4 linked regions of the Homo sapiens genome follow. The protein of the gene in region 3 purifies or fractionates together with the protein of the main gene of each other region. This does not show direct contact. Each region holds a gene or a part of one and is shown on either strand. Other genes may lie near its edges.

Region 1 (3,782 bases), on a different chromosome or scaffold from region 3:
AACCCCAGCACTTTGGGAGGCCAAGGGGGGGCGGATCAAAAGGTCAGGAGATCAAGACCATCCTGGCTAACATGGTGAAACCCCGTCTCTACTAAAAATACAAAAAAATTATCCGGGCGTAGTGGCGGGCGCCTGTAGTCCCAGCTACTCAAGAGGCTGAGGCAGGAGAATGGCGTGAACCCGGGAGGCGGAGCTTGCAGTGAGCCAAGATCCGGCCACTGCACTCCAGCCTGGGCGACAGAGAGAGACTCTGTCTCAAAGAAAAAGAAAATACATCACACTTGAAGAGCCATGAATGCAGACCTGGATCTGAGGCTGTAAATCATGGGCAGAGCAATGAGGACTAATCATTTCCAGCAAGTCATTTTACAGACAGAGCCCTGATATTCCAGTAATTTTGCTCAAGATAAAAAATAAAATTGGTCATATATAAAAAATAAAGTTGATTATTAATGCGTTCCTATTATTACTTGTTGGGGATTAATAGGCACAATCTCTTCAGCTGCAGAACAAAGGACGCACATGTTTTAGCACAAGTAAAAGGCTGCGATGGAGAGCCCCAGTATCACAGACTCAGAGCAGGACCAGCTGTCTGGCACACACCGCAACCTGAACATACAACATAAGTCAAGGCCATAAGCTGACCCAGAACCCCAAGGATCCCCGAGAGGGTCAACCATGATTAAAGAAACGGAAGAAGCAACTGCTGCAGGAAGAACTGAAAGGACTAGCATGGCAAGCCACGTGCAGCGATGATTCTTCAACACCCAGAGCCTACGGACTCAAGTCTCTCTGAGGTTCTCTCATGATATGCTTTTGGGAAAACGAAGTATTCAGCTATGGGTACACTTTTATAGAATGTGCTACTTCAAAAAGCCAGAAACTTTTCTTACCATCAGGACTTACTCAAAAGAGACAGAAGTAACTTTACCAAAGGTTCTTACACTGCGGTGGTTCCAGACTCAGGGGGAATTGGGGTCCTCTGAAAATCTCTCCCTGTCCCCACCTGCCCTTCACACGGCCTTAGGAGCTATTTTCTAAATGGAGTATGGTTTCATTTCTCCGCTTAGAAACCTCAGACACCTTCCCACAAGCACTAGGCCAAAGCCCACATGCCTCAGGACAGCTAAGCACCTGCGCAGTTAGGCCTGGAAACTGCCAGCTCGTTCCCCAACTCCCTGCCACCCGGTGTACGCTTCAGCTCAGACACCCATGAATCTACGACCATCTTCTGTTCATGAAACTTCTCTTTGATTCCTTCTGAAAAACTCATACTTAACCTGAAAAGCTCAACCTAGATGACAACACAATCCCTGATAAGACCTGTCAGTGTTCTGGCATTCTGTACACGTGTCTCCTTGGCATGTTTGACTTTTCCAGCCTGAGTTGTTTCATGGACCCGTATCTTTACTTTCCGTGTATACAGGCACTTGTTTTCTCAAGTTCTCTCTGCTCTGCACCTACCCTCCTTTTCTGCCTGTCAGCGGTGACATCCCTGCACATCAGGGTGCCTGGCTCCCAGCCATCCGACCCTGAGGACCACTCAGTCTTTCCCTTAGTCCACAGCGAAACCCTGGACATGAACTCTTCTCAAAGTTACTAACTCAATTTCTGCTTTCTGACCATAACCTTCTATGTATGCTACCCTTCAATCTCTCCAATTCCAACTAACCTGCATTGCTACCTCATGCAAACCTCTAGGCCATGAACCCATCTTCACTTCTCAACTAGACTTCAGCTTCAAGGACATGCTCATCCGTGTATTGCTGACTCTCGTGCATCCAATGCCACCAAACTCATGCTAATTCCCACCCAGAATGCACTTGATCTTTCAAGCATCTATAGCAGCACACAAAGAGACAATGTCTAGATCCAGTACAGACTTATGAATTCCAACCATAGGCCTTAACAAAGGCCAAAATCCATAAAAATTAATCCTGTCGACCAACTCTAATGCTGGTGAGAAGTGAGTAAAATAAGGCTGGTAAAACAGCAGGCCTTCTCCTTGGCCTTGCTGTCAGAAGCCTATTAAACACCTCTTCCTCCTCAGTTAATCCCCCTTGCATTGTACTCTGTGTAGGGGACGCCAGGTACACTACAGCACTTATCGCCCTCTGCGTCTTGCTAAGAGCTGCATGACAAGAGGGGAGACGGGCTGTGCAAGGATTGTGCTCACAGCAATCCAAAGTTCTTTATGCATAAGCTCTGTTCTCAGCTACATTTAAAATCCCCCACATAACTTGAAGGTCTGTTTTAGTATGTCAGACTGCACACATATCTGGCTTCCTATTAGATGAGGATTTTAATCCTTCAAATTATCTAGCATAGTGTCTACAACATAAATTCCTAGTAAAGAAATGACGTACCAAGGGTGGGTCAAGATAGCTGTGCGTTGCTGACCACGTCTGGGGAGTGATCAGGCTGTACAGGGGGAACTGCTGCTGGGGGCTGTACATGGGAGGGAAGTAGAACGACGTCGCGTAGCGCTGCTGGGCATACAGGCTCACGTCCAGGGGTCTAAATCCATTCTTTGGCAAAAATGTGTTTATAGCTATTGCCTTTGCTTTTATCCGTGCCTGTTTGAAAATATGTAAGTTTCTATTAGAATACTTAAGAACATCAATTTGCAAATAAACAAAGTATAACCAATGGTCTTGCTTACCTTAATTGGTTTTCCTTGAAAAGTTTTGACTTCTTCTCGAAGGTATTTGTAAGCCTAAGGGCAAAATTAAGTACAAAATTCCATTCGATTAACCTTATGAATAAGAGGCACCAATAGTTCACTCAATAGCTCAAATAGGGAAATATATAATTAAATTATGGTGAACAGAACCTAGAATAATGATTCTTGACACTCCCTGGGTCACAGATCCCTTAAAATAACCTCATAAGAGCTATGGAACGTGTACCCCAAATTCTCACAAACAAGATTTGTACACAATTTTGTAAGTATTAACAGATGCCATAGAAGTCTCCCAAAGACCACTGGCTAAGAACCTTGACCTGGTGGAAAATGATGAATACTGAGTTCCTAGTATTCATCCCAATTTCAGATTAGGAGAATGCAGTTCAGGAAATACCAGACAGGAAGGAAAAGGATTAGGATCATAACATCCAAAAGTCATTCTTGATATATCTCCTTGTTCTTCTCCATGTTAATTCTACATTAAACCCCTATAAAACTGTGAAGGCCCTGCACCTGATTCAATATCATCCGACCACATTCGCCACACGGGCTGGCAGAGCTCACACTCCACTCCACAAAAATGGTTACTCTATCTTCCGTTCCCCTTTTCCCCCTCCATCCAATTAAAACCCATCTTTCAGGTTTCTGTGTTTTCTTTTCTGAACCCCACATACTGTTTATACCATTTAACACTTTATAATATGTGCGTTAGTTTCCTCACAAATAAGATGCTTCCCTTAAAAGCAGGAAAACTACTAACTCCTCACGCCTCCTTACAGAGCTTACTTCTCAATACCATTAAAAGCATCTTCCAAAATACAATGAAGTCTGCTGGGAGATGAAGATTAGGTTCAAATTTCCCCCCAAACACTTTGCAAATAGTAAAACTTCTCTGCCCAGATAGAAGAACAAAACTGATTTTCCTAGGTTGCTTAGCTTGTTGTCCTTAGAAAGTAAAATCACATGCTTTTTATATTGCTATAAAAATTGTCCATACAAATACACTCAAATATTTAAGTTTCTACAACTTGATTTCCTCTGCAGATTATATTCAAACTTACCATCACAAGTAATCTCAATGCCCAAGTTTAGTCCC
Region 2 (3,782 bases), on a different chromosome or scaffold from region 3:
CAGATCACAAGGTCAGGAGATCGAGACCATCCTGGCTAACATGGTGAAACCCTATCTCTACTAAAAATACAAAAAATTAGCTGGGCGTGTTGGCGGGCGCCTGTAAGTCCCAGCTACTCAGGAGACTGAGGCAGGAGAATGGTGTGAACCTGGGAGGTGGAGCTTGCAGTGAGCCAAGATGACGCCACTGCACTCCAGCCTGGGCAACAGAGCGAGACTCCATTTCAAAAAAAAAAAAAAAACATTCACAGAGTCCCCAAGAGTGCTTTCCTATAGCCCCTCCCTCCTCTCTCCCCCATGCAATTTTGCGCTCATTTTGACAGAGGATGGAACCACACTTCAAAGATGCCAAAGACTTGACAAGGTTACCTGACTGCTAAGTGACTGAGCCAAACTGAAACCAGGTGGCTCTCCTGACTCCTAAACCAGTGCTCCTCCCCGCGTCCTAACTCCCCGAGTCACTCTGGAATCCAAGCCTTCCCTTACCCCTACCACCACCCTCCACCTTACCTTTTACTGGCTCCATCCCTGAAACGCTCCCACAGGCCCTGGCAAGGTGGCCTCCCTCAATACCCCTTCCTACTACACAGACCAAAAAAAAGAATTAACAATACAGGGGGAAAAAAAGAAAGAGAACCAAAGATCCCACTCCATCTCATTAAGAAAGTAAACATAAGAGCCATCTAAGTGTCTAATTAAGCTTCTAATTAGTCCCTGCTTGTTACTAATGCAAATTAGATTACTCCGCTTAACTACAGCATGTCCACAACACCCTTGTTAATTGCGGCCTTTTGAAATTAAATTACTCCCTAATTAGCATATCAAAGCCATTGATTCGGAGCTGGGAAAGATGAGGGCAAGAGGAGCCGAATGCCAAGTTTGGTTAATCAGAGACGGCTAATTAAATAGTGACGTCTTATGTGGGGGGCCTGCTGGTTAAGGGGTAGGGGCAATTCGCCCAGGGCCTGAATGGCCATCTGGAGCCTGGTTCTGGTGGTGCCTTTGGCACCAGGGTTTCCTTTGGGCACAGGAGGGGCTCTAGAGGGCCTGGGACAAACCACTGAGTATGGCCATTTCTGGGCCCCTGGCTGTTCTGCCCAGCCTGCCCCGACATGCCTTGGCCCCTCCCTTCATTTCCTCAGATGTAGGGGGCAAGTGATGACTTTATCATAGAGGGGCTCACCCTGGCAGGGATGCGCTGATTTCATCTTGAAACAGGCCCCCGGAGACACAAGGCCTTATGGTACAAAGACCTAACCTCTGTGGTAGAAAGAAGGCAAAAAGAATCACCCACAACCATCAGTTCTTTTTTTTTTTGAGACAGGGTCTCACTCTGTGTCGCTCAGACTGGAGTGCAGTAGCGCGATCTCGGCTCACTCACTGCAACCTTTCCTCCTTGGCTTAAGTGATCCTCTGGTCTCAGCCTCCCGAGTAGCTGGGACTACAGTCACATGCCACCACACCCTAATTTTTGTATTTTTTGTAGAGAGGGGGTTTCACCATATTGCCCAGGCTGGTCTCAAACTGAGCTCAACTGATCCTCCCACTTTGGCCTCCCAAGTGCTGGGATTACAGGCATGAGCCACTGCGCCCATCCCACCATCAGTTATTAAGTAGCTGTGTGGGAATTAGATTTGGGTCAGGGTGTCCTTATAGGTCCTCTCTCTGAGATCTTCTTGTACAGACCCTGCAGTCTTTTTTTTTTTTGGAGGCAGAGTCTCATTCTGTCGCCCAGGCTAGAGTGCAGTGGCACAATCTCGGCTCACTGCAACCTCCGCCTCCCGGGTTCAAGCAATTCTCCTGCCTCAGCCTCCTGAGTAGCTGGGACTACAGGTGCCTGCCACCACGCCCGGCTAACTTTTGTATTTTTAGTAGAGATGGGGTTTCGCCATGTTGGCCAGGATGGTCTTGAACCACTGACCTCAGGTGATTCACCTGCCTTGGCCTCCCAAAGTGCTGGGACTACAGGCATGAGCCACTGTGCCTGGCTAGACCCTGCAGAGTCCTTCAGACACTGTCCCACACTAGATTCTCCTTGAGGAATACTGGGGACAGGTGAATCTCCATGTCAAAGCTGCTAACCAAAATGCCTTCAGGGGCTAGGCTGGTCACTTAGGAGGCCAGGTGAGGAGGGCACGAGGAGGCAGCTGCCACTCAATCCCAGTCCATCCTTTCCACACAGAAATGCAGGCTCAGTGTTGACAGGGCTTGGGTTTTTCAAAAGGAGCAGAAGTGGGGATATTTATGTGAAATTTACCATTGTAATGAACTGTGTGTGGGTCAACAAAACTCAGCAGGGATGAAGTTAGTCCACTTGTGACCTCAGCCCTTATGGCCAGCATTTCAGAAAGGCAAGTTCCAGTTAACTGTGACTCGGGGCAAGTCAGGTAACCTCTCTGGGCCTGGGTACTTCACCTATCAAATGAGAGTGATAATTACCACTGCCTGGAGAATCTTTCAGGGTTGTTGTGGGGATAAGAACAAGGAGGTATGTGAAACGGCAAAGCACAGTTCCTCAGTCAGGGCCTGGTGACTACCTAGCTCTACCTGCCACAACAACCTCCCAGGTTTCCTAATAGGGATGTCCTATTAGAACTTCCTTCCCCCATCTTCCATGCAGGGGGCAGAGCAAGGGCTTCCAAGTGTCCTTGAAAATGCTGAGGGCTTGTTCCTGCAGATATCTGACCTGACTGTTGGGAGGCTTGGAGGTACCACACACCTATGCCCTCTGCCCTGTGTTTTAATGGATCAGTTCTGGCAGGGGCAGCAGCTTCTGAATGACAAAATCCTGAGGGTTAAAAGGTCCCTAGCTTGGTCCTTCTCTACCTCCTCTGTCCCCAACTAGGGTGCAGTCTGTTCCCAGCTCTTCCTCCCTCCCCTAGTCCTCCTAAGTTTCTCACCAGAAGCCCCTGGAGCACACAGGATCACGGCCAAATTCCCAAAGGGTGAGATTCTGTTTACTTAAGGAGAGATCAGACAGGGTCCAGGGGAGGGGAAGTCCTCCTGCCCCCACCTCTGAAAGGGCAAATCCCAGCCAGTACCCAGTCCATGGGTATCCATCCAAGCCAAACTGGGCAAAGGGGCACAGAGCAGTGGTTTTATTTTAGAAAATAAGTGCAATTAAAAGAAAGGCAGAAAAAAAGGAATGGGGGAGGAGAAGGCTGCCCTGGTGTGAGGGGGAGGGGGGATGGCGGCACACAAGGGCCAAGCTGAAGCTCGCCTCACCTCGCGGAGCTCTCTCTCCCAACGAGATTCAATTAATTGATAACATGAGGCATCAAATTAATTTCTGGAGAATGTGAGATTCTGATGAAGGGAAATCTCGTCGATGGGGATCGGGTGGGAGGGGGCAGGCAGCACCCCTTTTAATCAGGCTCCACTGCCTAATTGGGAAGGAGGAGACTTGCATGGGTCATAGTGTCCTCTGCCCCGAGCTCCACAGCACCCCTTTCAAGAAGGACCCATGGAAGTAGGCTCCCGATGCCCTTGGAACAAAGAGGGTGTACGTTGAGACCTTCAGGTCTCTTCTTGCCTGGCTCCCAACCCACAGCTTCAGGATGGTGAGCCCGAGGATGTGGGGCTGCAGGTGTCCTCTTCACCCACTGTACAGTTAGGAAAACTGAGGCCCAGAGAGAAGACGGGTCATGCCTAAGGCCGAAGAGTGAGTTAGGAAGTTGGCAGCAGTGGGCTTACCGGGGACCCTCATCATGTACCCGTGTGGGTACAGACTGTTTAGGCCTAGACCCACAAAATCATCTCTGAGCACAATCGGTGGGCAGCTT
Region 3 (3,782 bases):
AATCAGTATTTATTAAGGGTGACAAGTTTCAAATACACAGGATGCTGTACGGCAGGACTATTCAGTCTGGTTGGCTGAGGGATAGACAACAGAAATCTCCAAAGCAGCTCCAAGCATTCTTTCTTCTGTTACAGGCATTTTAAGAGAAGCATGAGGAATGCCCAGAAGTCGAAGAAATATCCCTCTTAGAAGAGCTCACTGGCATCTATCCCCTCATACCTCCTTCCAGTCACCTCTTATCTTTTCCCAGGACTCTGTGCTTAAATTCAATCTCATTATTAGCAGCCACCAACTCCTTCACCCCAATTCAGCCATCACAGTCAAAACACAGATACCCTTCTCCAAACACTGGGATCTCAACTGAAGGAAATTAAAGGTAGTATATTCACTCAAAAAGGGTAAGCCCGACTATGGTAGAATTTCTTACCAAGAATTGCACAGTAGAATCAGTGGGTCAAATCCAGCAACCAGAAGATGTGGCAACCACTCCTTATATTTTGCTTGTGCTTTAATTGCATGATTTACAAATTCATATATATGGTTCCATGGTCCCAATGAGCAACCTTTCCTCAAAAAGTAGCGAAATATCGAAAACTTCTCGTACTTCAGGCAGTATGCCAAATGAAGTTCATTTATCTGGGCTCCATATTTCAAAAGAATGTTCACAATTCCAAAGAACTCACAGCTCCACCATAAAAAATAAAAACAAAAAAAGAAGAAGTTAGACTTTGACATAAGATACTTCTTACAAACAGTTAATAGTAGTTACAGCTGGGGAATAAGTATGGCAGATTAAATAGTGGATGGTTTCTACACATCTAGTGGATTGAGATTAGAGAATGTGGTGGGGCTTTTGCTTTTTACACCCTCCTGCATGGTTTTTAATTTTCAACTGTGAACAGGTATTATTATAATTTAAAACATTCATCTTAAATGTCATTTTAAAAAAAATTATCATTGACAGAAAACTCAAATTGTGATATTTTGTACAAATGAGTATCTTTACTACAAAATACTTTGCTTAACAAAATCAATAAACAACGTGATCAATCCTTAAAACTAAATGATTCTAGGAATCTCTAAGATATCATTTTCCTTAGCAATAACCTTAGCCAATTTCCCTCCCACTTTAAACTTATTTATTTTTCTAGATACAGGGTCTTGCTCTGTGGCCCAGGCTGACGTGCAGTGGCACAATCAAGGCTCACTGTAACTGAACTCCTGGGCTCCAGTGATCCGCCCACTTCAGCCTCCTGAGTAGGTGGGACTACAGCTACATGCCACCATGCCTGGCTAATTTTTAAATTTTTTTGTAGAGACAGAGTCTCACTATGTTGCCCAGGCTGGTCTCAAACTCCTGGCCTCAATGAATCCTCCCGCTTTGGTCTCCCAAAAGGTATGCCACCGTGACTGGCCTTACATTTATAATGGTATTAAAAAAAATTTAAAAACTTTTTTAATTAACACAAATTTAATTTACAATACTACATCTTAAAATTAATTAACTTCTATTATTATCTCCATTGTAGATGCAAAAACTGAAGCTGAGTCACAGAGCTAGTAATTGGCAGAACTGGGATAATGATATCAAACCAAAATCTAACAGTGAATATGACATAGCAAATTTCTGCAATATCTCTTCTCTATTATGAAAACTGAACACTTCATGATATAGCCAAATTGAAGAATATTTTAGAGCCAGATCTATGTTTTCCAAAGTAGGTTACACAGAACTTTAGTTCCTGAAAATGATCCATATGAAAAATACTCTCCAGTGAAAAAAACTGAGAAACCTCCTTATACAGTATACAGTGAGCCTGAGAAAGATAGGATGAATGTATTTTTAAACAATGTGTTAGTTACATTTCCAAATATATGCTCAATGTTTTTATTCAACTTTCAGATACTTTTCAGAAGAGGTACCTTTAAAATTAACAATGGGTCCAATCATTAATCTGAAAAAAGCAAACAAAAGTATAAAATGCCCAAAATTCTGTAAACACAAGAACAATGGTATATATACTTAAATATAAGTTCTATCCTATGTTTCTGGACTTTTCAAATCTTTGTAGATCCATTCCTCTTTTAGGAATTCACAAAGCACACTACAATAAGAAAAATTCTCAAAAGCCCTCTACAAAAGAAACATATTCAATATTATTTAATCCTGTACTTCCCAAACTTATTTAACAATACAACCCCTTTAATCCCATATAATATCTATTAACAATCTACAGAATTAGTATTCTACCAAAACACACTTTAGAAAATCAGCTCTAAACCTCTTCCAATTATTCACATTGCCTTGTATTAGAAGGGGCAAGAGTAAATCCCAAAAGGCTTATAAAACTGCACAGTGCTACAATATAGACCATTTCCCAAAAAAACTACCATTTGTTTGAAGAATAAAATAAACACAAAATAAACTGGAGAAGCATAGAGTTTTGTCAGCATGCCCTGAGCTTCTGGGAAGGTTATTAAAGAAGGTCTCAAATACATGTGCACACTACAGAAACACAAGCAACTTCAACTTCAGGGCTCTATATGACCTTGATTATTACATGTCACTAAGCACACAATAAATCCTTGAGCATGGATAACCTCTGGTTAAAATATAAATTAGTATGTATTTCTCTTAACACTTCAACAAATTCTCTCTGTAGCCCTAATATCAAATTGAGAAAACTCTTCAAGTACCCGAGATTTAAACAAAAGTCTATCTTGTTTAACATAAATATCAAGAATTAATTGTGACATAGAGGGACTGTACATTATATAAGAAGTGAACAACATCAGATACTGAGAGGAGAGATTTAAAAATTAAAATCCAATGTCTAGACCTTATTTTGGGGGTTTGCACATTTTCTACCACTCCGCTCCTTGAAGTTCAAAACTATGCAGAAAAACAGTGCTCACACATAAAAGAAGCACAGTAAGAGAAAATTCAACATGAAAACAAAATTTACTTTAAACAAATAGAAATGGGCAAATATCTTCAGCATTTTATGTTCAATTAGCAAACAAAATATCCAACCAACTTATTAGGTGAATTATAACAGGCCAAATAGTGAGTTTTACTGAATGGCTTTCGACCATTAGCTGAAAACAAGATGAAGACATTCAGTTTTGTCAGATGTGCCCACACGATATGGTGGCTAGAATGGACACAATTAATTCTATGAAACTAATGTAATAACAATGATTAGTATCAACTAGAAAAACAGACAAAACCAGGTGAGCTAAGCCACAATCTACTTCTGTGGCCATATATAAAAGGCATTCATATTTGCTCAAACAGTCCTAAAACTTCTCAACTTCCCTCTTCCTTTCCCATTCCATTTGGAGGAATCTTTTTCTTATATTTCCTCATTCGAGATGGATTACTCAATTACTCTTGAAAGACTGGCTTCATATCAATATAGCTGCTAACTTTTTAGCTCCAAAGGACAAAAACTGCTTTTGTTGCAGGATCTATACAGTAGTGGAGGAGACACCTTTCCATCATCCCTGGGAGTGGTGAAAGGAGCTAAGTGTCATTCTCACAAAGAATACCTACCAAAAATGTTTCAGAACACTGATACTGAGCTTAAAAGTTGAATTAGCTGAAAAAATAATAAGGAAGAGAAAACTTAAAACCTGGGGCACCTTAGGAGGCCAAGGCAGGAGGATCACTTGACCTCATAAGTTTGAGGCTGCGGTGAGCAATGATTGCACTACTGCACTCCAGCCTGGGCAACAGAGTGAAATTCTATCTCAAAACAACAAGAATAAAGAAAATCCAA
Region 4 (4,217 bases), about 150 Mb from region 3:
TTCCCCTTTGTGCCCAATTTCTTTGTCGTTAGCCTTCAGAGAGGTGGCATATCTTGGTGGTTACAGGTATAGAAGACTCTGAAGCCAGGTTGCCTAAAGTGAGATGACCTTAGGCAATAAATGACTTGACTTTGCATCTCAGAATATAAATGATGGCAAATACTACTGTTATGAACCTCCTGTTTTGTAGGTGAGATACTAAATGTCCAGAAATGCTTTTAAGCTTTCCAAAGACCTGACTTTACAAATGACTATAGCTTACCTCCAGTGCTAGATAGATAACACATATTTCAGAGGGCTGATGGTTTTGGAAAGGTAAAATCATGAGTCCAGTGTTCATTTTTTTCTCTCTTAATTATCAGGTACTTCATAGACAGCAGTCTCAGCCAGCCAAGGAGAGTTCCCCTCCCAGAGAAGAAGCGCCTCCCCCACCTCCTCCGACTGAAGACAGTTGTGCCAAAAAGCCCCGGTCTCGCACAAAGATCTCCTTAGAAGCCCTGGGGATCCTCCAAAGCTTTATTCATGATGTAGGCCTGTACCCAGACCAGGAAGCCATCCACACTCTTTCGGCTCAGCTGGATCTCCCCAAACACACCATCATCAAGTTCTTCCAGAACCAGCGGTACCACGTGAAGCACCACGGGAAGCTGAAAGAGCACCTGGGCTCCGCGGTGGACGTGGCTGAATATAAGGACGAGGAGCTGCTGACCGAGTCAGAGGAGAACGACAGCGAGGAAGGCTCCGAGGAGATGTACAAAGTGGAGGCTGAGGAGGAAAATGCTGACAAAAGCAAGGCAGCACCTGCCGAAATTGACCAGAGATAATGTGAACTTCTACTAGGCAAAGCAATACATCGGTCCAAGGATTTTCTGCTTTCATTTCTTTAAAAGTTTTTTGTTAGTTTGTTTTTTGTTTTTGTTTTTGGGTTTTTTTGGCTTTATTTTTGTCTTTTTATGTCTGTTTTGTTTTTCTTACCCTTTTGGACATTTCTTTGTTGCACAGGATACACCTATAGACTGAATAAGTTCAGTATTTCCGAATCAGACATCGCCTTGGCAAAGACACTAAAGCGTTACACTTTATCCCGTCTCTATGACTGGATCATAGTCATTATAATCACAGGAGACTCTGCCTTCATTATCCTTGCACTTAACGGAAGTTACATCAGGCAAGTACCAGGATGAAAAGAACTATGAAATAAATGAAGGAAGCTACAAGTGTGTGTGTATATGTATATGTATATATCTCTATATTTACATATATATATTAAAATTGCATGGGACAGAGACTTTGCAATCCGAAAGAATAGACTGTGAAATGAGTTCTTAAAGAAAAGACTTGTTTATGTATTAAAAAAACCACTTCACAGTGAGTCGCTTTGGCTTTTTGATAAACTGCGGCCTGCTCTCAGGGTGGGGTGACTATTTTTGAATTCCTATTTATTTTTTGTGTTTGTCCCTGATTTTTTTTTTTTAATTCTATGGCTTCCTATCTGGCAGCTTAATGGGTAATTTTTGAGGTATGTATTTAACAAAATAAACGACACTGCCGAAAAAAAAAAAAGTGAAGTGAAAACAATCAGGGCACATTAAAATGATACAAGTCAAATAAATCTTAAAGACACAATGCACACTTAAAATGACTCAATAAAATGACTTGCTACGTTCCGTTATTCAATTTGTCATTACTGTAGTGAACAGATGCATTTCTGTGGAATTCCAAATAAGTAAAACTGAAATTCAGTGCAGAGAAAACTTTGTCCACTAGTGCAAGTCTTGATCAAATGACATTTTGACATTGGACATATGGAATTCATAGTATGAGCCACATTTTGTTGTGAAATTTATTTACCTGCTTGTGGCTTCAAATCTGAAAATTAATAAGCCTGCTCGTTTAAAAGTTGTTTGTTGTTGCTGTTTTTTTGTCTTTTTGTTTTTTACTAGAAAATAGTTCAGTGTAATATTAAGTTAGAAAAGAAGTTGCTGCCCAGTTAAAGGGGCTCCCTCTCAAATAAATCTCCATCCTTCCCTCTCCCAAAAGACATTTCTGATTTCTGCTTCACTTTGGGCTTCCTCTTCTTCGTACACATTCCATCTACCTAATCAAACATTTTCAGTCCCTGATCTCTCCTGTCCCTTTTCCTGGGATGACAGCCCTAACAAGAACTGTTTTTGAATCGTTGTGCAGCTCCAGGCAATAGAGTATGTGAAGCGATTTCAGTAGAATCACTTACTCATCCTAAAAGAAAACATTATCCCAGTTACCTACATCGCAATTACCTTATGTAAAGCAGAACTAATGCTGACTGGATGTTTAATGGGATGAGCATTAAAGCTGCAATCTACTATAGTACTCCAGATCTCTTTCGGCTTCCTATGAGAAACACCAGAAGCATTACTTTCCACTTCTACTTACAGTAATTGCAAGAGGAGACCTCACATTCAGGACTGGCCTAGTGAACGTAATCCATGCTTTAAACTGGCCATTAAACAGTCCCACATGGTTGGATTTTTTTTTTTTTTTTGAGTTGTGCTTTCACAAAACCTTGTCAAAGACCTCATGCAATATCACTTTGAAAGTTATTTTCTGTTTACTACACAAACATTGTAATATAACTGTTAATACTATTTATATATTTGAAAGGTATAAAAGGTAGGAGTTAAAAAAAAAACCTCTATGTGTAGATATTAACTCAGAACTTACAATATACAGGGAGAAGACATGTTGCAATACAAGCTAATTCTAGCTGCTCAGTAACCTCTGGAGTTTTTAAAGGGACATTTTCCTGTACTTTTTCAAATAATGATGTTTAAAAATTATCTTGACATAAGCGTCATATACCTTTGCAAAAGGATGGTTGTTTGCAGTTAGCCCTGGCCCCATCCTTCCTATTTCTGTAGTATGCTGCAGCTTTAATCAGAAAGTCCATGGTTGCTGCTTCCTGATCTCCGAGTTACTCTTTCCAAATTGTCTTCTTACACTGTTGCTGAAGGTCACTCTGTACACGTAATGGAAACTGATTTTGCCAAGCTCTTACAAGGTGGTTCATCTATCGATGGCATCCGCATTTGGTATCTTTTACACTTCAACCAAAAATTTATTAGGTATTTTTCAATGCTAAGTCTTGCCTTTTATTTTTTAATTTCACTGCCAAGTTTGCAGTGGTTCTAAGTGAATCTGTGGGCATTTTAGCCTGTGGTCTTGCCAGATCTTTGCGAATTACAATGCATATATGTCTATTTATTCAATATCTGTCATATAATATCTATTTGGAAGAAGAAACTTTCTCTTGTAGTGCCTCTTGACAAAGCACAATTTCCCGCCTTTTTTTTTTTTTGTGAAATGAAAAAAACAAATTGTGTTTTATTGCGGTATCAACAATGTGAATAAGGATTAACATATTGTAAATGTTCTTTTTTCCATGTAAATCAACTATCTTTGTTATCACTAAGTGATAATTAATTTTTAACTTATGTGCATTGTTAGGCTGTTAGAATTTTTTGGTTGTTAAAATAAACGCATTCAATAAATATGACTTTGTTTGTCAGTTATTTTACTGGGCATTATCTGCTTTCCCACTTAATTTTTCATGCAGAGAGAGACCTGGTGAGTCTTAGGAAAATTTGTACCCTTATTTTAGAAACAAGACAGTGGTACCTGCAATTACAGATATATGAGTCCTGTACAGTGCATGGATTTAATAGCACATGTGAATGTATGTGTGTCTCTGTGTGTATATAAACACATGCATGCTCACTTCCTTTATCCAATCTTTTGTCATATACAAACAAAACTCAAATGTATAAAGATATATTTATAGGCTGCTGTTTTATTTTTCTAGTGAATATTTTCTGTTTATAATTAAAAAACCACAAATGACTGCGTGTCAGGAAACTTTTGGAGCACATATGTCCATGGTTAATGGACATAATAAAAGTCTTTTATATTTAGAGCTGGGGTACCATAATGTGTGCATGGAGGAATGCTGAAAGGATTGATGTATCTGAGAAATGTGTGAAAATGATTTTTTAGAAAGTACTTACAATGGAAAAAACTGCTCAAAAGACTAATGTTAATAAGGAAAGAGCAAGTGCTTCGCTTCAGAACTGGCAAAGAAAAAGTAAATTAAAAAGTGATTTTGTTTTCTTTTGATATTGTAAATGTTTTTCCTGTTTATTTTTTTTTCCATTTTTCTGCATTTGATTGACATACAGATG

The links.
Region 1: the proteins of ASB3 (region 3) and LARP4B purify together in Homo sapiens (affinity purification with mass spectrometry, with the first as the bait; 2 studies listed by BioGRID). This does not show direct contact.
Region 2: the proteins of ASB3 (region 3) and FOXP4 purify together in Homo sapiens (affinity purification with mass spectrometry, with the first as the bait; 2 studies listed by BioGRID). This does not show direct contact.
Region 4: the proteins of ASB3 (region 3) and SATB2 purify together in Homo sapiens (affinity purification with mass spectrometry, with the first as the bait; 2 studies listed by BioGRID). This does not show direct contact.

The regions. Positions count from the first base shown.
Region 1 is NC_000010.11:827,019-830,800, forward strand, and holds part of LARP4B (la-related protein 4B), read right to left. Parts: intron 2,717-3,782; coding exon 2,663-2,716; intron 2,577-2,662; coding exon 2,367-2,576; intron 1-2,366. UniProt on the Homo sapiens protein: Stimulates mRNA translation.
Region 2 is NC_000006.12:41,552,786-41,556,567, reverse strand, and holds part of FOXP4 (forkhead box protein P4), read right to left. Parts: intron 1-3,782. UniProt on the Homo sapiens protein: Transcriptional repressor that represses lung-specific expression.
Region 3 is NC_000002.12:53,699,844-53,703,625, forward strand, and holds part of ASB3 (ankyrin repeat and SOCS box protein 3), read right to left. Parts: intron 686-3,782; coding exon 428-685; intron 1-427. Other genes in the region: GPR75-ASB3 protein, read right to left, coding at 428-685. UniProt on the Homo sapiens protein: Probable substrate-recognition component of a SCF-like ECS (Elongin-Cullin-SOCS-box protein) E3 ubiquitin-protein ligase complex which mediates the ubiquitination and subsequent proteasomal degradation of target proteins. Recognizes TNFRSF1B.
Region 4 is NC_000002.12:199,268,818-199,273,034, reverse strand, and holds the end of SATB2 (DNA-binding protein SATB2), read left to right. Parts: intron 1-362; coding exon 363-824; 3' UTR 825-3,530; downstream 3,531-4,217. UniProt on the Homo sapiens protein: Binds to DNA, at nuclear matrix- or scaffold-associated regions. Thought to recognize the sugar-phosphate structure of double-stranded DNA.